Homo sapiens: one gene and its partners. The protein of the gene in region 1 purifies or fractionates together with the protein of each later gene. This does not show direct contact. Each region holds a gene or a part of one and is shown in the gene's direction. Other genes may lie near its edges. The genes, in order: POLR2M, USP47, INPPL1, RPRD1A, RPAP1, GPN2 and POLR2D.

Region 1 (3,500 bases):
ACATGGGGGAGTGTTAAATTTTAGGATGCTTAGCCAGTATTTCATAATAAACACAGAGTTGGAGAGAATTTATTATGACTTCTTTTTTTCAGAACCATTTTTTAGTGTACAGCTTTGATTAGTGTACTATCAAAGTGTACTCTCTTTGATTAGTCTGTGAACTAAGGGTAAAGCAATTGCAGGAGCTGATGGGCTTTCCAGCAGAAATTATTTGCATGCTCACTGTATGTAAGCAAGCAGCAGGTGTTGTGGGGACACAATTAAGTCAAGATTCTTAAAACTCCTTTGCCTTTTTTGATGTTAAATCTCAAGTTTAAAAACATGGCTGTAATGTATACATGTGTAATGTAATACAATACCATGTTCTTCAAGGAGTTTAAGAGCTACATGAGGACCCAAGGTTTACACACTTGGAAAAGAGTTAAGCTACATAATAATAACAGTTTCAGGGGGAAGGAAGCTGAGAAGAGGTTTGAAAAACTGTGAAAATAGATTCAGGCAGGATAGGCAAAAACTCTGCTTATCAGTTCCTTGCCATAAATTTGTTTCTGAAATTTCAGGAAAAGTAAAATCTTTTTGAAAATAATTGCTATTTACTTGCAGCAAATGTAACATTCAACTCAGGTAACTGGTACCTTCTTCCTATATTGTATTTACAAGTATGTAACATCAAAGTTAAATCACTACTACCTTTCTTTGAAAAACAGAAAACCTCTAGTGAAAAGTATCTAAAACATGCTTCTTTTTTGTTAGACTTTAATTCTACCCCAGCATTCATTTTAACCTCAAAACATTTTATTTCTGCTGTATAGAAAATCAGGATTATACTACATTAACGTGATCAAGTACTCTCTTGTGTACAGTGGGGTATCTTTCTTCACTTCCAGGATGACATTTTAGAAAACTAGAACCATCATCTAGTCAATAAATAAAACAAAGAATACATTAATCCCAGTTCTGTATTATGGTCATTTAGCTGGGAGTGGGAGAGAGGTAAGGGAATAGTGAAGAGGGCTACCAAGAATTCAGGAAGTTTAAGAGACAGGGAGCCTCCTGTATAAGTTAGAGGAGAACAGGAAAGGCAGGGCTTTGAGGAGTCCTTAGGCCATAGACAGGTAGGGATTGAGAGGGTTCCGTGTGAGAGGTGGCTTGGAGGTTGGAAGGTGGGGTCAGGTAGTGTCCTTTGGGTCCTTTCTGCTCTTCCTTCTGCATACTCTTCTGGCTTCATGTATCACCTGGATGCTGGAGGCTGACCCCTGTGCACCTCTATCCCAGATCTTCCCAGAACTTTAGGTTTGCATAGCCAATTAACCATGAAACTTGATCACTTGGGTGTTCCCAGGTACCTCAGCTTAATGATGTACAAAGTGGAACTGCAGTTTCTTTCCAAGGTGATTTCCATATTCCCTAATAGTGCCACCACCTTCTCGGTTTTCTTCCCCTAAGGTATCTTCGATTTTTCTCATCTCCATATCTGCTAGCCATGAAGACCTACTTATTTCTTTGATCTTCATCTCTATAATTGTTCTTCATCTTCTGTCGAAGTGAAGACTCTCATCTCTCTCGGGCTGTAATTGTGGCCCCTTCTACCTCTAGTCTTAACTACCAGTCTATCTCCACTGCTGCCAGAGTGAAATTTGTAAGATGGAAATCCGAACTTGTTACGGAGAACTCTTCATTGCAGTCTGGGCCTAGGCTACTTCCCAGCCCTCTTTCTCGCTGTCTTTTCTGTGTAGCCAGAAAAGCTGAGTCTGTCTACCTTCTGTACTTTCTCTCACTCCCCTTGCTGGGATGCACTTCTCTCCTTATTTACATGGGTAAGCAGTTATTATTCCAAGACTGTTCAAAGCTTTTTTGAAACTTTTCTTAGCCTCCCTGTCTCCCACTAGAACTGGCCATTTCCTTATGTTCCAATGTATCTTGTTGAGATATCTATCACAGTATCTCTGGTATTGTATTGCACTGAAACTTTACATGTGTATTTCTTTCTACTGGGCAATAAGCCCTTTTGCAAATGTTCTTTGAATAAATGAAAAAAAAAAAAAAAACTCCAGATGAAATACAAGGTTTGAATAAGGAAGGAAAAGGCAAAGAGCCTGTATGCACACAAACACACCCCTATTTGTTAGAGCAATGAATACTGGTAAATTACTTACTGTTACCTTTGGAGGAGAATTAATTGCTAAGGTAAAGGCCATTTGTGTGAATGTTTTAAATGTGTCTACAAATAAAATAATCTGATTGTATAACACAAGTTTTCCTTTCATCAGGTTACCTTTTCGACAAAATGATTCATCTAGTCATTGCCAGAAGAGTGGGTCTCCTATTTCCTCAGAAGAGCGGCGGCGCAGGGATAAGCAGCATCTTGATGACATCACAGCAGCTCGGCTTCTACCACTTCACCATATGCCCACGCAGCTGCTCTCCATAGAAGAATCCTTGGCACTTCAGAAACAGCAGAAACAGAATTATGAGGTATTTAGAGTATTTTTTTTCTTGTCTGTTTGTTGGGTGCTGCTTACATAAGCTAGAATTTACTCCAGGTTCAAGGAGGAAGGAATGGAATAGAGGGGATTAGGTGCTTCCATGAGCTCAGATCTATGCCACTAGTTTTCAGAGAGTCACAAAGTTGCTAGAACTGCAGGAAGTAGCTAGAGATGATCACAGCTACCTTCAACATTAAAGTGGTGATTTGCCTGGAGATGTGGGGAGACTTGTAGAATTTCATGTCTTAAAGCTCATTTACCTGCCTGTTCCTGTTAGGATAGTAGTAGCATCGCATCTCTCCCTTTCACCTTGTAAAACTCATGTGACAGCTTCTCAGTGGCGGACTCAAACCCAGACCCCTTGTTAGAGAATGAGGAGAATGTAGTTCCCAGGCTTCCATCTTCTGCAGTACAGGGGAGGGCATAGAAGGAGTGGGAGGATAATGTTGTGTAGCCAGCAGACAGTGAGACACTGCTTTAGAGCATAATCTGCAGGCCCATGTGAAGAGAGAAATATCTCCTGCTTTTGGCAGCTTAATCAATTTTGCATAGCACTTTGTTTCCATGTGTTTTGCATTGAACTTCAAACATGTATGTTGAGAGTTTGTATACAGAATAATGGGATGGGAGAAAATAAGTGTGAAGGACCATAGGGGAACAGAAAAGTTTAGAAGTATTTAGTAATAATTTTAGCCTCCAGGAGAACAGTATCCTGTCTCACTTCCTAGGTATTGATTAGCTAGATTTTAGTCAGGTACTAGTGCACCAACTAGTATAACACCAGACTGTTCAGGAGTTCGAGACCAGCGTGGGCAACATAGCTAGACTCCATCTTTACCAAAAAATTAGCCGGGCATTGGGGCATGCAACTGTGGTTCCAGCTACCTGTGGGGCTGAGGTAGGAGGATTGCTTGAGCTCAGGAGGTCGAGGCTGCAGTGAGCCGCAGTCACACCACTGCACTCTGTATAGCCTGGGTGACAGAGTGAGACCCTGTCTCAAAAAAAAAAACAACA
Region 2 (2,708 bases), on another chromosome or scaffold:
GAGTGCAGCCATCAGTAGGTCAAGCTAGGAGGGCAAAAGAGAGTTGAGAGGAATGCTCTGCCCCTTCCCCATCACAGCACTGCCCCTTTCCACCTCCTCACCAGCTCACCTGTACAAGAGAATTGATCTCAACTGAGTGTCAGCTCACCAGGTCAGAAATTGTTATTGGACCCTAAAACCTTGCCTCACAGGTGGGCACCAAGCTCCCCTTCCCTCTGCTTTCCATGTTTCCCACCTGCCCTCTCCCCACCTGTTTTCAGCCTCTTTTATAATGCTTAAGTAACCTGCTTGAAGAGTATAATTTATGGAGATAAAAATACTCAATGCTTACATTTTTTTCATAACTGTGCCAATTGTTTTGTCAAATGCAGTTACCCACTGGGCAGTGGGCTTATCAAGTGCTCAGTGCAATCCTGTGACTTTTAAGTCATTTTGCATTATTAAGACAATCTTATCTTAAAGTTCAGTGGTTTCATTCAAAGCTCCCCTGAACCTCCATAGTGCCTCCAAGATGTGCTGTCCCTGCCAACTCCTGCACCAGCTTGACTGGTGGTGGAAGAGGCCAGGAAGAGCGGGGGGAAGACATGTGCTAACCACTTCTTAGCAATGAGGCTGGTAAGGTTACTGTCCCCTTGTGCCTGGTCACTAGTAACTTTTTTGTAGACATGAAGGTAGATGCCCTGCAGGTCCTATCAGCAAAGGACCCAACTCCTAACAGCATTGGTGCTCCCTCATGAAATTTGACAGTGTCTTGCCAGCCTCCTGCTGGCAGACACTTCTCTGCAGTGAATACCACTATCCCATGCTGCACTAGTCCCTACCAAGTCTTCAACCCTCAATTTGATCTTCCATGAGTGTCTCAAAAAGTTCCCCTCAGAAGTTTCAGCCAAGGGAATAAAATCTAACCTCTCCTCCCTCAACGGAGTGTCAGGGAGGGGAAGAATCTGTTTTCCAAACACCACAATCTCCCAAAAGGGGATTTCACCCTCCCTTGGTCATCTTTATACAGGGCAATTGTGCTGCTGCTGCTGAGGTGGCCACTTTCAGCAAGCCCTGTGTGCAGGGGCCTAGCTGCATTTAGAAACCAAGCATAGCTATCAAAAAGTAATCTCCAAATAGTTGAATTGCATTTCTTGAGTATCTGGAGAGGATGTGCAGACCACAGGAATACCTAATGCCTTTTTTCTCTTCCTGTCTTTGTCCCTCACACTACAGCAGGCCCCTCCCTTCCCTCTTCAACCTCATCCTCCCTCCCCACAGGCCCAGAGAACCAGTTGGGCTTTGTTCTCCTGCAGGCTATGGTTCATCATGCAAATAGCTCCTGTGTCAGAAATGCTTTTTGGCTTCAAATAACAGAAAAGCTAACACCAGCTTTATCAATAATAATATCGGTGGTTTACTTAAGGTGTCCAGAGATGGTGGAGAACAGGATTGGTTTCCTCCTCAATGTCAAGGACTCAAAGACTCTTTCTGTGGTAGGGCCACATCCTAAACCCTGTATCCTGTGATTATTTACCTGACAGGGCAAAAGAGATTTTGCAGATGCAATTAAGGTTAAGGACCTTGACGTGGGAAGATTGTGATTATTTACCTGACAGGGCAAAAGAGATTTTGCAGATGCAATTAAGGTTAAGGACCTTGACGTGGGAAGATTATTCTGGATTATCTAGGTGGGCGCAATTTGATCACATGGGTCCCCAGAAGTGGAGAACCTTTCCCACCTGTAGAAAGCCAGAGAGCTGGCACCTGAGAAGGACAGAACTGTCATTGCAGGATTTGAAGATGAAGGGGCCCATGAGCCAAGGAATGCCAGTGACCTATAGAGGCTAAAAAACAGCAAGGAAATGGACTCTCCCCAGAGCCTCCAGAGGAATGCAGCCCTGTTGATCACATGATCACCAGATGGCTGCCCCAGAGCCAAATGTCGCTTCCTGAGCACCATACTCAAAGGCAGGGGAAGTGGATGGAGGGCAGGAGCTCCATTCTTGTTTGCCACTCTCCTTTTGTCAATTGGGAAAAAATTCCAGAAACTCTGGGAGCCCTCCCCTTACATTTCCTGGGTCATGGGGCCAGCCCTAGCTGCTGGAGGGACTGAGAACAGCTGTTGAGCAGTTTACCTGACGGCATCTGCCATGGCTTGGCAGGAACTCTGGCTTTGGGAGAGAGCAGCAGCAAGGTATTCAAGCACCACCTCCACCCAGCCCCTCCCACATTTCACTCAGGACTGAGTAAAGGAGACACTCAGATGCTACTCAGATGCTGGCTTCAGCTAAGTATTTTGCAAAGCCTCTCGTGTTCTTACAAGTTTGTGGCTATCATGACAAAATGGAGCAGCCTACTATATCTACATATACAACTATGGGGGACCTAGTTTTATCTCATTTACCACAATGTTTTCAATCATTTTTTGGATGACATAATTTTTAGCCTCTTCTCTAAATGCTTCCTCAAGCTTTCCTTGCCTTCCAGCCACTGCAAATGACTTGCAGTTTCCCCTACATGGCACCTGACCCTTGTGCCTCCCTCCCTCTGCCCATGGCCCAGAAAGCCCTTTCCTGTGCCCTCTGGCTTCCTGATAAACTCCTATCATCTTCAAGAGCCAGTTCCCATGCCAGCTCTCCCCAAGTGCTCCACTGAGGCTTCCGTAACACCTCTGTTCCCACATCGGGTTGACTGTCTTTGTTTTGTCATTGCTTGCTCTGGCTGTG
Region 3 (2,440 bases), on another chromosome or scaffold:
GGGCATGGGCATGAGTGAGGATAAAGGCGTTTGCTTTATTTTGGGAGTGTGGAACCTTGTTGCAGTTTGTTCATTCATTCAGGAGATGCTTCTTGAGCTTTTGCTAGATGTCAGGTCCTGTGTTAGCTATTGAGAAAATTAATTAGTTACAGTGATGCTAGGTGCTGTAAAAGGCCTGTATAGGGCTGTGTCTTCTGCATTAAGGATTTGGCTCTTCTCTGAAGAGTTGAGTGTGAGTGAGCACAGATGACCTGAGGGTGGGGATTGAGTGGTGTCAGGGGGCAGCGCGTAGGAGGGGCAGGAGGAAGTGGCGGGGCTTTGTTCCTCACTGGGCCTCCCTGCTTCCCAGCTCAAACCAATTCTGGCTGATATCGAGTACCTGCAGGACCAGCACCTCCTGCTCACAGTCAAGTCCATGGATGGCTATGAATCCTATGGTGAGGGGTGAGGGGTGCTGAGGGGAACAGGAAGCCAGACAGGGCCCTAGATTAGCTTGGTAATTTGCTGGTTTGTCCCATCTGCTCCTCAGGGGAGTGTGTGGTTGCACTCAAATCCATGATCGGCAGCACGGCCCAACAGTTCCTGACCTTCCTATCCCACCGTGGCGAGGAGACAGGCAATATCAGAGGCTCCATGAAGGTGCGGGTGCCCACGGAGCGCCTGGGCACCCGTGAGCGGCTCTACGGTGGGGACTCCACTGGGACATGAGATAGGGTGGTGTGAACAGATCAAGGAGGGCAGGGTGCGGGGGGCATGTTGGAATCTCTGGGATACCTGGAGGTTCTGCAGCCACAGCTGGGAATAGTCCTGCCCCAAGGCATAGCTGGGAAAGGGCTGGCAGGCCCACTGGGTGTCTGTGGGATCCAGGAGCCCAGGTCTCCTCTGAGTCTCCCTTCCTGCCCCCTCAGAGTGGATCAGCATTGATAAGGATGAGGCAGGAGCAAAGAGCAAAGCCCCCTCTGTGTCCCGAGGGAGCCAGGAGCCCAGGTGAGCTAGGGCTGTGTTGAATGTCATATGAAAGGGTACCTGGGGGCATCTGGTCAACCCCACTTCATCTCTCTCCTGTGCATCCCTGGCAGGTCAGGGAGCCGCAAGCCAGCCTTCACAGAGGCCTCCTGCCCGCTCTCCAGGTTATTTGAAGAACCAGAGAAACCGCCACCAACGGGGAGGCCCCCAGCCCCACCCCGAGCAGCTCCCCGGGAGGAGCCCTTGACCCCCAGGTGAGAGGAGGAACCTGTCACCGCCCCCCCTTCCCCCACCCACCTCTATCCATCACTATCCCCTGCAGGGTCTCAGGGTTGGCCTGGAGATCATCAGCTGCTTAGGTGCCCTGCCACTCTGTGGTTGGAGCTGCCATGGCCTTATGCCTGTGGCCAGCCAGGCCACCCTTAGCTGTGGCTCTGAGTCAAAGGGAGCAGTCAGCCTTTCCTCTCAATTCTGCCTTTAAAAATGGAATGCGAAATTGTTTCTAAGACAGCTCCCTCCATGTAAACAGACCTAGCTTGAGCCTTCTATTTGGAGGAGGCACATGGCTCGGCCTGGGATTTCCCAGGGTACCTTCTTTGGAACTCTGTCCTGCAAGAGGCCCCAGTTGAAATGGGTTTGTGGTCAAATGAGTTTGGGAAATGCTTTTTCTAGATTCTTTTCTTAGACATTCCCAGTGCATGTTAGTATTAGCAAAAGCTCTGAGCATGTGGACAGGAAGGAAACCTCTTTTCAGCTCTGTTTAATATAGTTTCCCAAACTTAATGGGCCAGGAAACTTATTTTCCATGTAGTAACTATTAACGTTCTGGGGAATTAGTGCTCTGTGTCACACTTTGGGAAAGTGAGGCTTGCTTTCTAATTATATCCGATTGTTGCTTAAACTTACATAAACTCCTAGGTACAGTTTGGTGCTTTTTCACTCATCTTCAGCTGTTGTCAGTCACCCCGGTTTTATCCCTAGGCTTGAATAAGACCCACCTGAATCTCTGAGAAAGATTCTGCAGCGGATTGACTGTGGGTGCCTCAAGAGGCTTTCCAAACCTGGCCTCTCATTGGAGGCTTCTTGCCCTGTCTTCTGGCACCTCTATTCTGACCCATTTAGCTTGGGTTTCACAGCTACAGATAAAGTCATGAAAGATCTAAGTATCTTAGCAAGTGAGGCAAGGGATTGTAGGGTTATCCATTCAAAGGGTTATCCTCCCTCTGACCTTTAGAGATGAAGAAACTAAGGGCAGGTGATGTGCTCAAGGTCATGAGAAAGTCTAGGACCAGGGGACTTTCTGACTCCCGTCTAGTTCTCCTTCCACTGCTTCCACTGCCTTAGACCTGGGTTCCTGGATCCTGGCTTAGTCGTTCTGCTTCCACACCCAGGTTGAAGCCAGAGGGAGCTCCTGAACCAGAAGGGGTGGCGGCCCCCCCACCCAAGAACAGCTTCAATAACCCTGCCTACTACG
Region 4 (3,500 bases), on another chromosome or scaffold:
GATTAGATTGCCATTGCTACCCATGGGAGCTGCTACTTAATTATTCCCACCTCAAATTCCCAGCTCTCAAGTTAGCACTACTCCTTTGCAATTTACTCCTTCTCTGCTCGTATAAATACCCTCAGATGATGATAGTTGGTGGCCACTATACCTTTGAAGAGGTTGCCCACTTCTACATGGAAAGGAAAAGATGGTTTTTTTTTTTAAAAGATGAATTTGATAATTAACTTGCCACTATTTCACCTTGTGATGAAACCTCAATTTTAAACATAGTGTTAATTGTTTTATTGTCCACAGAATTAAGGGTAAGTAATGTCATACAATTTTTGTCTTTAGTCTTTTAGTATGGTTTCTTTAACTTCTATTGAGCTTCTGTTGCAGATATTGGACATGGGCGTATCTTCTAACGATGTCGTCACCATTAGTATATTCTTCCTGCTAAAAATAAATATCAAACCCTGAAGCCTGTATTGTCTCATGTTTTTGAAAATTGAAGAGAAGACTGTAACTTTATTCTGCTTTATACTTTCTCACTTATGATGATGGTCATTTGTCACTGTTTACAAAAACAGAATTTATATTTGAAGTGTAACTGTAGAAAATAGATCAGATGCCACTCCCCACAACCCCCTTTTCCCCCAGTGCCTTCCAGCCACATTTCATAGTTGACAGTCATAGATTATGAGGCTGATGATAATAATAATGTTAACATTCATGTGTCAGGTACTATTCTAGGCACTTCACATAAGCAACTCATTTAATCTTACACAGCAGGATGTATTATCCACATTTGATAGATACAGAACTGAGGCACAGGAAGATTAAGTAACTTGCCTAAGGTCACAAAGAGCTAGTGAGTTGTTTGGAACGCAGAGAATCTGCCTCCAGAGCCAGTGCACTTCATCAAAAAGACACATTGCTTCCTGTTTTTACTTAAATCTAAGATTAAAGCAAATGCTAAAGTCCTATTTTTTCCAACTTTTTCTGCTCCCTCTCTTCTCAGAGGTAATCACTGTCTTGAAATAAAGCCTTCTAGGAACTTTTTTTGTTGTTCTTCTGCATAACTGGATTTTATATTATAAAGAAGAAATCACCTCAATTATGTTCAGCTGTTTTTTAACAAGTAAATACTCTTTACAAGTACAGAAATAAACTTGAAAGTTATTCCACAGAACTCTTTGTAAATTATCACTTAGAACTATGTTATTCCTTTGTAGAAGATGTGGAAATGATTTGAGATATTTAGACTTTTTTGTACCAAGTAGGTGGCATCACTTTGAAGTTGAGACTGAGAGGTGAAGATTTATGTTTTCTGAATCAGCTGTGATACTATCAAGTAATTTTCATCTATTGTGTATCTTTGAACATTAACAGTGGTTGACCAGATACTGATGTGTCATTTGTTGCTGCATTTTTGATAATGGAACATAAATTTAAAGTATCAGTTCGGGAATTGGCCATTTCATATTTCTTAAGGAAGCCATTATTAAAGCATGTGTAATGAATGAAAACATGAAGTGGTTTAAAATTTGTGTTTTAAGACAATCATTATTTTTGAAACTTCTGACTATAGTTGGTTACTAAGCAGAAGCAGATAACTGTTGGGCCGGGTGTGGTGGTTCACGCCTGTAATCTCAGCACTTTGGGAAGCTGAGCTGGGTGAATCACTTGAGGTCAGGAGTTCAAGACCAGCCTGGCTGACATGGTGAAACCCCATCTCTACTTAAAAAAAAAAAAAAAAAAAAATTAACCAGGTGTGGTGGTGGGTGCCTGTAGTCCCAGCTACTTGGGAGGCTGAGGCAGCAGGATCACTTGAACCTGGGAGGTGGAGGTTGCAGTGAGCTGAGATCACACCACTGCCCTCCAGACTGGGCGACAGACCGAGACTCCATCACGCGCGTGCGCGTGCACACACACACACGAGATAACTGTTAAAATAGACTATTAATAACTTTAGTTTACATTTATAATATTTAGGGATTGCTATAGGAATCATTTTACCATTATGAAGTTGAAAGTATTGCATAAACTGTTTTTCAGTTAGCTTATTATCTTGGAAGGCATACATGAATAGGAGAATTAAAATGACATTTTGACTTTGACATTGTTTCCTAGTACATACAAAAGTTATGTTTACAACTTTACTGTTGTCTAAGTATTACAATTACACTTTACTGTTGTCTAAGCATTAGGATTACATATAAAATTACATATAAAAAATGTACGTATCTTAGTTAAAAATGCTTCATTGCTAAAAAAGACTAATCATCTGAGCCTTCTGTTAGTCATAGTCTTTGCTGGTGGAGGGTCTTGCCTTGATATTGATGGCTGTTGACTGATTAGGGTGGTGATTGCTGAAGGATGTGGCTATGGCAGTTTATTAACACAGTGATAAAGTTTGCTGCATCAGTTGACTTCTTTCTTGAAAGATTTCTCTGTAGGATGCAGTACATTTGATAGCATTTTGCCTACAGCAGAACTGCTTTCAAAATTAGAAGCAATTTTCTCAAGCCCTGCTACTGCTTTATCAAGTAAATCCTTTGTTGTCATTTCATCTCCACTGGGAGTAGATTCCATCTCAGGAAACCACTTTATTTGCCCATCCATAAGAAGCAACTCCTCACCAACAAGTTTTATGAGATTGGAGCAGTTCAGTCACATCTTCAGGCTCCACTTCTGTGTCTCGTTCTCTTGCTATTTGCAGCAGATCTACAGTTATTTTCACCACTGAAGTCTTGAACCCCACAAAGTCAGCCATGAGAATTGGAGTAAACTTCTTCCAAACTCCTGTTAATGTTGATATTTTATCTCCTCCCATGAATCATGAATGTTTTTAATGCCATCTAGAATTGTGAATCATTTTCTGAAAGTTTTCAGTTACTTTGCCGATATTCATCACAGGAATGACTATGGCAGCTATATAGCCTTACGAAATGTATTTCTTAAATAGTGAGACTTGAATGTCAAAATTGCTCTTTTATCTATAAGTGGCAGAACACGTGTTAGCAGGCATGAACACTAGTCACATTGTACATCTTCATCAGAGCTCTTGGGTGACCAGGTATGTTGTCAATAGTAATTTTTTATTATTGTTATTTTGGAGACAGTCTCTTGTTCTGTCACCCAGGCTGGAGTAGTCATGCAATCACAGCTCACTGTAACCTCGAACTCATGAGTACAAGTTATCTTCCTGCTTCAGCTTCCAAAGTAGCTAGGACTGCAGGTGTGTGCCACCATGCCTGGCTAATTTTTAAATGTTTTGTAAAGAAGAGTTCTTGCTGTGTTGCCCAGGCTAGTCTTGAACTCTTGGGTCAAGCAGTCCTCCCACCTGGGCCTCCCAAAGTGCTGTGACTACAGGTGGGAATCACTACATCTGGCCAATAGTAATATTTTGCAGGTCTCAACAGTTGGCTTAAAATACTCAGTAAACTATGCTGTAAATAGATGTATTGTCATCTATACTTGTTTCTTTTATAGAGCACAGGCAGAGTAAATTTAGC
Region 5 (3,500 bases), about 16 Mb from region 1:
CCGCTCCCGGCAGACTATCTTCCTGTCCTTGCTGTAGCTGCCCCAGCTCTGGCTCTGTCCATCCCACTGTTCTTTCTCTCTCTGCTCACAGTGCTGGGGGAAAGATGGCAGGGCCAGAGTAATAAGAGAGGCAGAATCTGACAAAGATCTTATGAACATGCCAGACCAGAAGCAGAGAGGCCAGTGGAAGCACTCATTTCCCAGAAACTAGATTATTTCATTAGTGATTAACAAAATAAGAAATTGAATTATGAGAGCCAGGAACCTCATGCCCCCGGAGGAGCTCCAGGCCAGCTGAGCAGGTTGGGTGGGGGTAGGCGTGAAGGAGGAAAATGCTGTGGGATTTGTTTCTGTATCCTGCCCCCCAGGAGCAGTATAGTTGCCTCCTCCTCATTGTCCCCACTCTCCTACTCCTTTAAGGGCTGGTACTGGAAAGTGGAGATGGTGCCTTCCTGACATATGTGGTCCTCCTTCTTCATCTTTTTCTCCTTTCTTTCTCTTTCTTCCTTCTCCTTCTCCTCCTCTCTCCCCTCCCAACAAATCCTTGGGGTCAGCAAGGGGCTGGAGCCCAGGATGGAGTGTGTCTGTCATATTTGAGACTTTCACCCCAGCCCCAGGAGTTCCAGTCCCTGGGCCATGCCATTTAGCCATAACCGAGGGTAGAAGCTGGCAGATCCTGGAACAGAAGTGGATGTGGCAGCTGCTGGGTGATGGTGGGGACCCCTGTGGATAGTGAGCTGAGCCGTTTGGGTAATACTATCATGCTTTGTCTCCCCAGCTCTGGCATTGCCCGTGACCCCTCAGAAAGAATGGCTGCACATGGACACTGTCGAGCTGGAGAAGCTCCACTGGACCCAGGACTTGCCCCCTGTCCGGCGGCAGCAGACACAGGAGGTGAGGAGGGCCACCTGGCCTACAAGGGGTGGGTGAGATAGGGCAGGAGAGGAGCTGCTGCTCTTGCCCTCAGAACTCAGGCCTTTCTATTGCCCAGAGCCTGAGAAGCATCTCTCCTTTGCTCTCACCCACCTTTACCATCACTCTGCCTGGCCCCCAAGGCCAGATAAGCCCCATTTCTGGTAGAAGTAGAGTCAGTACCTAAGTCCTGAAAGGCCTGGGATTAAAGGTGGGGAGTGGGTGTGGGAAGGTTGCTGGAGCCCCCAGACCACAGTCCTCTTTCTCTTCCCATTAGAGGATGCAGGCTCGATTCAGTCTTCAGGGAGAACTACTGGCCCCTGACGTGGACCTGCCCACCCACCTGGGTCTGCACCACCATGGAGAGGAGGCAGAGGTGAGGCATGGGACTGGAGAGGATGGGGCAGCTCTTTTAACAACCCCATGGAAAAGGATCTCTGGTCAACTGCCTTTGACCTTCTGTGTGCCCTGTTCTAGTTCATGCCTTTGCTGTGCATTCAGTTTCTTTTTTTGGAGACAGAATCTCGCTCTGGCCCAGGCTGGAGTGCAGTGGTATGATCTTGGCTCACTGCAGCCTCCACCTCCTGGGTTCAAGCCATTCTCCTGCCTCAGCCTCCTGACTAGCTGGGATTACAGGCGCATGCCACCACGTCCAGCTAATTTTTGTATTTTTAGTAGAGACGGGGTTTCACCATGTTAGCCAGGATGGTCTTGATCTCCTGAGCTTGTGATCCGCCTGCCTCGGCCTCCCAAAGTGCTGGGATTACAGGCGTGGCATTCAGTTTCTTAGGCTCAAAATCTTGATCCTCTCTCCGTATTCTGGTCAGTTGCTAGAATTTGCCGATCTTCTGTCACCTCCTCATGATGCCTCCTGCACTGTGGCCTTGCTTCCTTGGTCTGCTCACTCTCCATGCCCTCCATTCTCCGCCCCCCTGCCATTCCATGTCTCTCGGGGCTGCTGTGCTGATTTCTTCTGGCCCAGCTCAGGCCATGCCTTGCCTCCAGAAGTTTCCCAGCTTCCCTCTGCTCACAAAATAAGGTTCTGGTCTCAGCTGGGCAAGATATTCCTTCTACCTTTTGTCCCTGCTGACCCTGCTGCTCTGCCTCCTTCACTTCCTGCTACACCACTCTGCTGGCTTCTCCCCACATACCTCCTGTGCTCAGGGCCCTCCAGGACTCCACTCGCTCCAGGAAATGCCTTTGCCTTTTGCTCCATGTCAGGCCATCAAAGCTCTACCCATCCACTGAGACCAATTTAATTTTCCAGGTTCCCTTCTCTCTCTCTCCTGTCCGCCGGTCGCAAATTAAACATCAGTTATCACGTTCCTCTGCATCTGCCTCATGGCATGGTTACTTGTATGCAAGTCTTATCTTTACCGGCTTGAGGCTCCATGGAAAGCAGGGCAGATTTCACTTATTTATCTTTGTCTTTCCTGTGATACCTTGCTTGGTGTTTTGGGGGCACTGTGCTGTATCCTGGCTGCTTCTGACTTCTTGTCCCTGCCCCAGAGAGCGGGGTATTCCCTACAGGAGCTGTTCCACCTGACCCGCAGCCAGGTTTCCCAGCAGAGAGCACTGGCACTGCATGTGTTAGCCCAGGTCATCAGCAGGGTGAGTGGATTGCCAGCCTGGTCCTGCCCACCCTTCCCTTCACCCCACAGCCTCAGACTTCCCCATCTCCTGCCCTTTTCACTCTGGCTCACTAGCCAGCTATGTGCTTTTAACAACCTAGGATCATAGGGGGGCAAACGAAGGATTAGGGCAAAGCCTCTAGATAACTTCAGCATCTTCAGCAAGGTTTTACCCTCCTGCCCTCAGGCCCAGGCTGGTGAGTTTGGGGACCGGCTAGCAGGCAGTGTCTTAAGCCTCCTTTTGGATGCTGGTTTCCTCTTCCTACTGCGCTTCTCCTTGGATGACAGAGTGGATGGGGTCATTGCAACCGCCATCCGTGCTCTTCGGGCTCTGCTGGTGGCTCCTGGAGATGAGGTACCACAGGGATAGGAATGGGGCTTGGGCTGGGAGGTGCCAGGGTCCATATTCCTGTTCCTGGGCATGGCCCCATTGCTAAGGCTTTGCGGGCAAGATGTAGAATGGGATGGCAGGCGTCTCCCTCATCTCCTAAAGTCCCTAAAGCCCAGGAGGCTTGCCTTTATGGTTTTTATTGGGGAGCATCCTCTCTACTCCTGGATCCATTTCCTGGCCCCTTCAGCATTGCCCCCCAACTCCCGTTCCTCTGGCAGGAGCTCCTCGACAGCACCTTCTCTTGGTACCATGGAGCTTTGACGTTCCCTCTGATGCCCAGCCAGGAGGACAAGGAGGATGAGGACGAGGATGAAGAATGCCCAGCAGGAAAAGCAAAAAGGAAAAGCCCTGAAGAAGAAAGCCGGCCTCCACCTGACCTGGCCCGACATGATGTCATCAAGGTAAAGGGACAGCTTCTTTCCCATCCCATGGCCCAGGGGACAAGCACATGCTGGAAAGAGGGGCCATCAATGCCCAGGGTCCAGCTGCATTTGTCAGTGGGTTTCTCTCTCCAACTCCCAGGGGCTCCTGGCTACCAGCCTGCTGCCTCGGCTGCGCTACGTGCT
Region 6 (3,500 bases), on another chromosome or scaffold:
TTAGTGAGAAATGATTTATAAAACTGAATCAGGGACCTCAGCATCATCTAGTCCTTATTTTACATTAAGAAATAACTGGCTCAGAAAAGGAAAGTGATTTACCCAGGAGGCTACCCTGCTAGAATGTAGCATTTATTCAGTTTAACCATTTACAGAGTCTTTGCAGTGTATGTGCCAGGTCCTGAGGGTATGACCTGACTATGAGCTCTGTGAGGTGAGGACGACCATGCACAGTTCTTGGTACATACTTGTTATCATTATTTGCAACTTTTTTTTTTTTTTTTTTTTTTGAGACAGAGTTTCGCTCTTGTTGCCCAAGCTGGAGTGCAATGGTGTAATCTCGGCTCACTGCATCCTCCGCCTCCTGGATTCAAGCGATTCTCCTGCCTCAGCCTCCCGTGTAGCTGGGATTACAGGCATGTGCCACCACGTCCGGCTAATTTTGTATTTTTTTTTCTTTTTTTTTGAGACGGAGTCTTGCTGTGTCGCCCAGGCTGGAGTGCAGTGGCGCGATCTCGGCTCACTGCAAGCTCCCCCTCCTGGGTTCACGCCATTCTCCTGCCTCAGCCTCCTGAGTAGCTGGGACTACAGGCACCCGCCACCACGCCCAGCTAATTTTTTGTATTTTTAGTAGAAACAGGGTTTCATCGTGTTAGCCAGGATGGTCTCGATCTCCTGACCTTGTGATCCGTCCATCTCCCAAAGTGCTGGGATTACAGGCTTGAGCCACCGCACCTGGCCTAATTTTGTATTTTTAGGAGAAATGGAGTTTCACCATGTTGGCTGGTCTTGAACTCCTGACCTCAGGTAATCACCCACCTCGGCTTCCCAAAGTGCTGGGATTACAGGCATGAGCCACCGTGCCCAGCCTGTTTGCAGTTATTGATCAAGCACTTCTCTGTACCAGACACTGGGGTTTATAGCATTTAATCTTCATAACAGTCCTATGAAGTAGATACCTGCCTATATAGCTAGTAAATAGCAGAGCCAGCAGGTAAAACCAAATGCTTTTTTTCTTAGTAACTTCATTTTACTGTGTCAAGAAATATTTGAGTGCATGAGTGCACAAAGGAAAAAAGGAAAAAGGAACCTCGTCCTCAGGTCTTTAGCCTGATACTGGTTGCTCCTGAACACTGGTTTCTCTCTTTAGCCTTCAACCTGGACTACTACACAGAGGTTCTGGACCTCTCCTACCTGCTTGACCACCTGGCTTCTGACCCTTTCTTCCGCCACTACCGCCAGCTCAATGAGAAGCTAGTGCAGCTCATCGAAGACTATAGCCTTGTCTCCTTTATCCCTCTCAACATCCAGGTACTAGGGGCTAAGACGGGACTCTTGACAGTGCATGGGATTCACCAAGCCAAAAGCACAGGAAGCTTTGAGGGCTTAAAGAATGGTCTTTGCCGGCTGGGCGCGGTTGCTCAAGCCTCTAATCCTAGCACTTTGGGAGGCCGAGGTGGGCAGATCATGAGGTCAGGAGATCGAGACCATCCTGGCTAACCCAGTGAAACCCCGTCTCTACTAAAAATACAAAAAATTAGCTGGGCGTGGTAGCAGGTGCCTGTAGTCCCAGCTACTCAGGAGGCTGAGGCAGGAGAATGGCGTGAACCCGTGAGGCAGAGCTTGCAGTGAGCCGAGACCACGCCATTGCTCTCCAGCCTGGGCGACAGAGTGAGACTCCATCTCAAAAAAAAAAAAAAAAAAAGAGTGGTCTTTGCCCTGGGTTGAGTATCACTGAGAGTAACCTTAGTTTCAGGACCAGGGGCTGCTGTAGGGGCAGAATTCCAGTAAAGAGAGTGGACCAAACTTTTGCCCTGTCTATTTTGTGTTGCTGGATCCTCTCTTCACATGTTCTGTCCTCTGTGAAAATGGGTGAGTTCAGAAAGTCATCAGCAAGAAAGTTCACCAGGACCAGGGACAAGTCTCTTAAGCCCTTTCAACTGGGCAACTGTCTGTTGACTTTGCAAAGTGGTACCCAACCCCTGTGCCTCTCACCTTTACCCTGCAGAGATAACCTGGGAGACGCAGGTGCATGTTAGATTCCTTTCTGCAGTGGGTGGACTTGAGCTAACTTGTCTCCTCCCTTCTAATGCCACACTCTTCTGATATGAGGAGATGAACTCTATAATATCAATCACAACAATTACCTCTTATTTATGGCTTTCTGTGCTGGGCACTGTGCTAAGGACTACACATACATAATTTTGCTTTGTCCTTCCCACCATGTGATATATGGACTGTTCTTATCACTGTATGTGGATGAGGAAACAGTTATAGTTTTTTTTTGTTTTGTTTTGTTTTTTGTGACGGAGTCTCACTCTGTCACCCAGGCTGGAGTGCAGTGCGTTATCTTGGCTCACTGCAACCTCTGCCTCCTGGGTTCAACCGATTCTCCTGCCTCAGCTTCCCAAGTAACTGGGATTACAGGCATCCATCACCATGCCCAACTAATTTTTGTATTTTCAGTAGAGACAGGGTTTCACCATGTTGGCCAGGCTGCTCTTGAACTCCTGACCTTAAGTGATCTACCTGCCTTGGCCTCCCAAAGTGCTGGGCTTTACAGGTGTGAACCACCGTGCCTGGCCCAGTTATAGATTTAAAACATGCATATTCATTGGATGTCTACTTAAGAGAAGTACTGTGCCAGGCACTGGGAATACTGCGACAGATGACCTGGCCCTAAGGGGTGTTTAGTTGAGTAGGGGAGGCAGGTGAGTTAATAGGCGTTTATTACATGGCAGGGATACCATGTACAATAGGTGTAAACCCAGGGGACTGTGGATATGCATAGGGGAGCTTATCTGTTCTAATCTGAGTGAGTTGGTGGTCAGGAAACATGAGATTTATCCAGCCTTTGGGGACATGTAGAACTACTCCAGGCCAAGAAAGCTACAGGTACAGAGGCAAGATGGAGGAAGGTGTATTTAGAGATTGCAAGCAGTTTTACATACTTCTGTTTCACTCACAGAACTGTTTCTCTCCTCCCTGCTCAGGACAAGGAGAGCATCCAGCGAGTCCTGCAGGCTGTGGATAAAGCCAATGGATACTGTTTCAGAGCCCAAGAGCAGCGAAGCTTGGAAGCCATGATGTCTGCCGCAATGGGAGCCGACTTCCATTTCTCTTCGTATCCTTGCCAGCTTCCTGGCCATAGCAGAGAGGGTGAGACATGGGACTCAAGAATGGCCACAGGAGGTGCAGTCATCAACCTTGTGGATGACCAATTTCTTTTTTTTTTTTTTTTTTTGAGATGGAGTCTTGCTCTGTCGCCCAGGCTGGAGTGCAGTGGCACGATCTCAGCTCACTGCAAGCTCTGCCTCCCGGGTTCACGCCACTCTCCTGCCCCAGCCTCCTGAGTAGCTGGGACTACAGCCACCCACCACCACGCCCAGCTAATTTTTTGTATTTTTAGTAGAGACGGGGTTTCACTGTGTTGGCCAGGATGGTCTTGATCTCCTGACCTTGTGATCCACCCAATTTCTTTTTTCTTTTTTTTTTTTGAA
Region 7 (2,552 bases), on another chromosome or scaffold:
TTGGGAGTTTGAGACCATCCTGACCAACATGGAGAAACCCCGTCTCTACTTAAAATACAAAATTAGCGGGGCGTGGTGGCGCATGCCTGTAATCTCAGCTACTCTGGAGGCTGAGGCAGGAGAATTGCTTGAACCTGGGAGGCAGAGGGGGTGGCGAGCCAAGATTGCACCATTGTACTCCAGCCTAGGCAACAAGAGCGAAACTGTCTCAAAAAAAAAAAAAAAAAAAAAGTGAAATTGCTTACCCAAATCTACAGTTAACTTTCGTTTTTTAATGCTTGATGAATTTGCATGTCATTCTTGGGCAGTGGCCATGCTGTCTTCTCTGTATTGTTCCAATTTGGGTATATGTGCTGCCAAAGTGAGTACTGCAGAATTATTTCTTGAGAGAGGCACTTACATGTGCTGATTGGCACTAAAGCAGTGGAATGGGAAGAAGAGACTTGGAAGGCAGCCCAGACGATCCAGGCGTGTGCTAGATGGCAACTGAGGAGCACGGTGCTACCATCTTTACTGGTGTTTCCACCTATGTGCCAGGGGTTCTGTGAGCTACCTGAGAATACTGAAGTATATAATGCTCTGGCACATAGTTAGGCACTAATCAGTGGTATTTATCAAGGTGATTAAAAGCAGATTTAAAAAGCAGCTCACAGTTGGGCGCGGTGGCTCACACCTGTAATCCCAGCACTTTGGGAGGCCGAGGCGGGTGGATCACCAGAGGTCAGAAGTTCGAGACCAGCCTGGCCAACGTTGTGAAACCCTGTCTCTACTAAAAATACAAAAATTGGCCACGTGTGGTGGCGGGCACCTGTAATCCTAGCTACTTGGGAAGCTGAGACAGGAGAATTGCTTGAACCCGGGAGGTGGAGGTTGCAGTGAGCCAAGATCATGCCATTGCACTCCAGCCTGGGCAACAAGAGCGAGACTCCATCTTGAAAAAAAATAAAATAATAAAAAGCAGCTCATACTAGGGAACTTGGTAAAGCAACCTCATGCTGTTGTAGGTTGAAAGCCTGGTCAGCTATTCTGCAAGACAGTCAAAAATTGTTTACAGGGCTGGACAGCATATTGCTATTGAAAAATAGCTATTAGGAGACCTTGCACAATTTGTGAAACATTGTTAGGCTCATTGTACTGTGTAAAATCAGGAAAGAATTTGGGAACATACTGATACAACAAAAAGATAGGTTGTCAAACCCTCACTTCACCAGAAAGCTAAATTAACCAGATAAGTCTTTCTGAAAGTTTTAGTGTCTTAGTTTGTTCCTGCGCTGTAACAGAATACCTTAGACTGGGTAACCTATAAATAATAGGAATTTATTTCTCACAGTTTTGGAGGCTGGCAAATGCAAGATCCAGGTGCTGGTACGTTCAGTGTCTGGCAAGGGCGGCTTTCTGGTCCAAGATGGTGCCTTTTTTTCTGCATCTTCCATAGGGAATGAACACTCCTTATGGTAGAAGGGATGGAAGGACCAGGCTTTTTTTTTTTTTTTTTTTGGATACAGCAGGATCTTGCTCTGTCGCCCAGGCTGGAGTGCAGTGGCATGATTAAGGTTCACTGCAGCCTCAATCTCCCACTCTCCAGCGATCATCCCACCTCAGCCTCTTGGATAGCTGGGACCACAGGCACGAGCTACCATGCCTGGCTAATTTATTTTTTGTAGAGACGGGGTTTCGCCATGTTGCCCAGGCTGGTCTGGAATTTCTGACCTCTAGCAGTCCACCTGTTTCCGCCTCCCAAATGCTGAGATTAGAGGCATGAGTCACTGCACCCAGCCCGCAGCCTCTTTTATAAGGGCATTAATCCCCTTCATGAGGGATATTCTCTCATGACTTAATCACCTGCCAAAGACCCCACCTCTTAATACTACATCAGTGATGGGTTCAATGTATCAATTGGGTGGGAGGGGGCACATTCAGACCATAGCATCTAGTCATTCTGGTTTTATTAAGATTTATTAGACCTGAGGCATGAAAAATAGCATACTGGATGGGACTTCAGCATCGATGAGTTGCCTTAGTAATACTGTTAATAAAAAGCACTAAATATGCCACTGGTGTCAGATAATTTTTTTACAAAAAATTTTATACTTAACAGAAAACCTGGAAAGACTAGTACATTGATACCTGTGTGTTCACCATCTTGATGTAACGGATAACATGCTATTTGCTTTATCTGTATTTCATTGCTAGGAATGGGGCATTATAGCACTTAGGAACATTGACAAGTATTGCATGTTATTGAATATCCAGCTCATATTGAAGTTTTCCTTGGGGAGAGTTCTGGGTCAAGGGTCAGTCCCAGTAGTGGTGTGGCTCAGTTGTCAGGGTCTAACCTAACAATTGCGGTGAGAAATATTGAGGAAATATATGTGGTTACAGCTCTCAAGTTTCTGTAAAGATCTTTGACTAGATAAAAGTACCTGTTTGCAACTCCTGAATGGGAGATGGGACTAGGGAGACTGCAGGTCCTGGGTAGATTCTGATCAGTATTTGTGCCTACACCCGGCTCTCCTCTCTTCATCAGCGGAAGAGCAGTTTGGAACTAAACA

Evidence for each region.
Region 2: the proteins of POLR2M (region 1) and USP47 purify together in Homo sapiens (affinity purification with mass spectrometry; 4 studies listed by BioGRID and IntAct, with this or other methods). This does not show direct contact.
Region 3: the proteins of POLR2M (region 1) and INPPL1 purify together in Homo sapiens (affinity purification with mass spectrometry; 3 studies listed by BioGRID and IntAct, with this or other methods). This does not show direct contact.
Region 4: the proteins of POLR2M (region 1) and RPRD1A purify together in Homo sapiens (affinity purification with mass spectrometry; 4 studies listed by BioGRID and IntAct, with this or other methods). This does not show direct contact.
Region 5: the proteins of POLR2M (region 1) and RPAP1 purify together in Homo sapiens (affinity purification with mass spectrometry; 5 studies listed by BioGRID and IntAct, with this or other methods). This does not show direct contact.
Region 6: the proteins of POLR2M (region 1) and GPN2 purify together in Homo sapiens (affinity purification with mass spectrometry; 4 studies listed by BioGRID and IntAct, with this or other methods). This does not show direct contact.
Region 7: the proteins of POLR2M (region 1) and POLR2D purify together in Homo sapiens (affinity purification with mass spectrometry; 5 studies listed by BioGRID and IntAct, with this or other methods). This does not show direct contact.

Annotation. Positions count from the first base shown.
Region 1 is NC_000015.10:57,709,714-57,713,213, forward strand, and holds part of POLR2M (protein GRINL1A), read left to right. Parts: intron 1-2,270; coding exon 2,271-2,475; intron 2,476-3,500. Other genes in the region: GCOM1 (GRINL1A combined protein), read left to right, coding at 2,271-2,475.
Region 2 is NC_000011.10:11,959,680-11,962,387, forward strand, and holds the end of USP47 (ubiquitin carboxyl-terminal hydrolase 47), read left to right. Parts: 3' UTR 1-2,208; downstream 2,209-2,708. UniProt on the Homo sapiens protein: Ubiquitin-specific protease that specifically deubiquitinates monoubiquitinated DNA polymerase beta (POLB), stabilizing POLB thereby playing a role in base-excision repair (BER). Acts as a regulator of cell growth and genome integrity.
Region 3 is NC_000011.10:72,234,767-72,237,206, forward strand, and holds part of INPPL1 (phosphatidylinositol 3,4,5-trisphosphate 5-phosphatase 2), read left to right. Parts: intron 1-349; coding exon 350-437; intron 438-529; coding exon 530-685; intron 686-908; coding exon 909-987; intron 988-1,079; coding exon 1,080-1,220; intron 1,221-2,357; coding exon 2,358-2,440. UniProt on the Homo sapiens protein: Phosphatidylinositol (PtdIns) phosphatase that specifically hydrolyzes the 5-phosphate of phosphatidylinositol-3,4,5-trisphosphate (PtdIns(3,4,5)P3) to produce PtdIns(3,4)P2, thereby negatively regulating the PI3K (phosphoinositide 3-kinase) pathways.
Region 4 is NC_000018.10:36,022,560-36,026,059, reverse strand, and holds part of RPRD1A (regulation of nuclear pre-mRNA domain-containing protein 1A), read left to right. Parts: intron 1-381; coding exon of another isoform or gene 382-462; exon of another isoform or gene 463-1,174; intron 1,175-3,500. UniProt on the Homo sapiens protein: Interacts with phosphorylated C-terminal heptapeptide repeat domain (CTD) of the largest RNA polymerase II subunit POLR2A, and participates in dephosphorylation of the CTD by RPAP2.
Region 5 is NC_000015.10:41,527,258-41,530,757, reverse strand, and holds part of RPAP1 (RNA polymerase II-associated protein 1), read left to right. Parts: intron 1-778; coding exon 779-894; intron 895-1,189; coding exon 1,190-1,288; intron 1,289-2,421; coding exon 2,422-2,523; intron 2,524-2,730; coding exon 2,731-2,898; intron 2,899-3,152; coding exon 3,153-3,335; intron 3,336-3,456; coding exon 3,457-3,500. UniProt on the Homo sapiens protein: Forms an interface between the RNA polymerase II enzyme and chaperone/scaffolding protein, suggesting that it is required to connect RNA polymerase II to regulators of protein complex formation.
Region 6 is NC_000001.11:26,883,784-26,887,283, reverse strand, and holds part of GPN2 (GPN-loop GTPase 2), read left to right. Parts: intron 1-1,150; coding exon 1,151-1,311; intron 1,312-2,993; coding exon 2,994-3,124; intron 3,125-3,500. UniProt on the Homo sapiens protein: Small GTPase required for proper localization of RNA polymerase II and III (RNAPII and RNAPIII). May act at an RNAP assembly step prior to nuclear import.
Region 7 is NC_000002.12:127,843,053-127,845,604, reverse strand, and holds the end of POLR2D (DNA-directed RNA polymerase II subunit RPB4), read left to right. Parts: 3' UTR 1-2,052; downstream 2,053-2,552. UniProt on the Homo sapiens protein: Core component of RNA polymerase II (Pol II), a DNA-dependent RNA polymerase which synthesizes mRNA precursors and many functional non-coding RNAs using the four ribonucleoside triphosphates as substrates.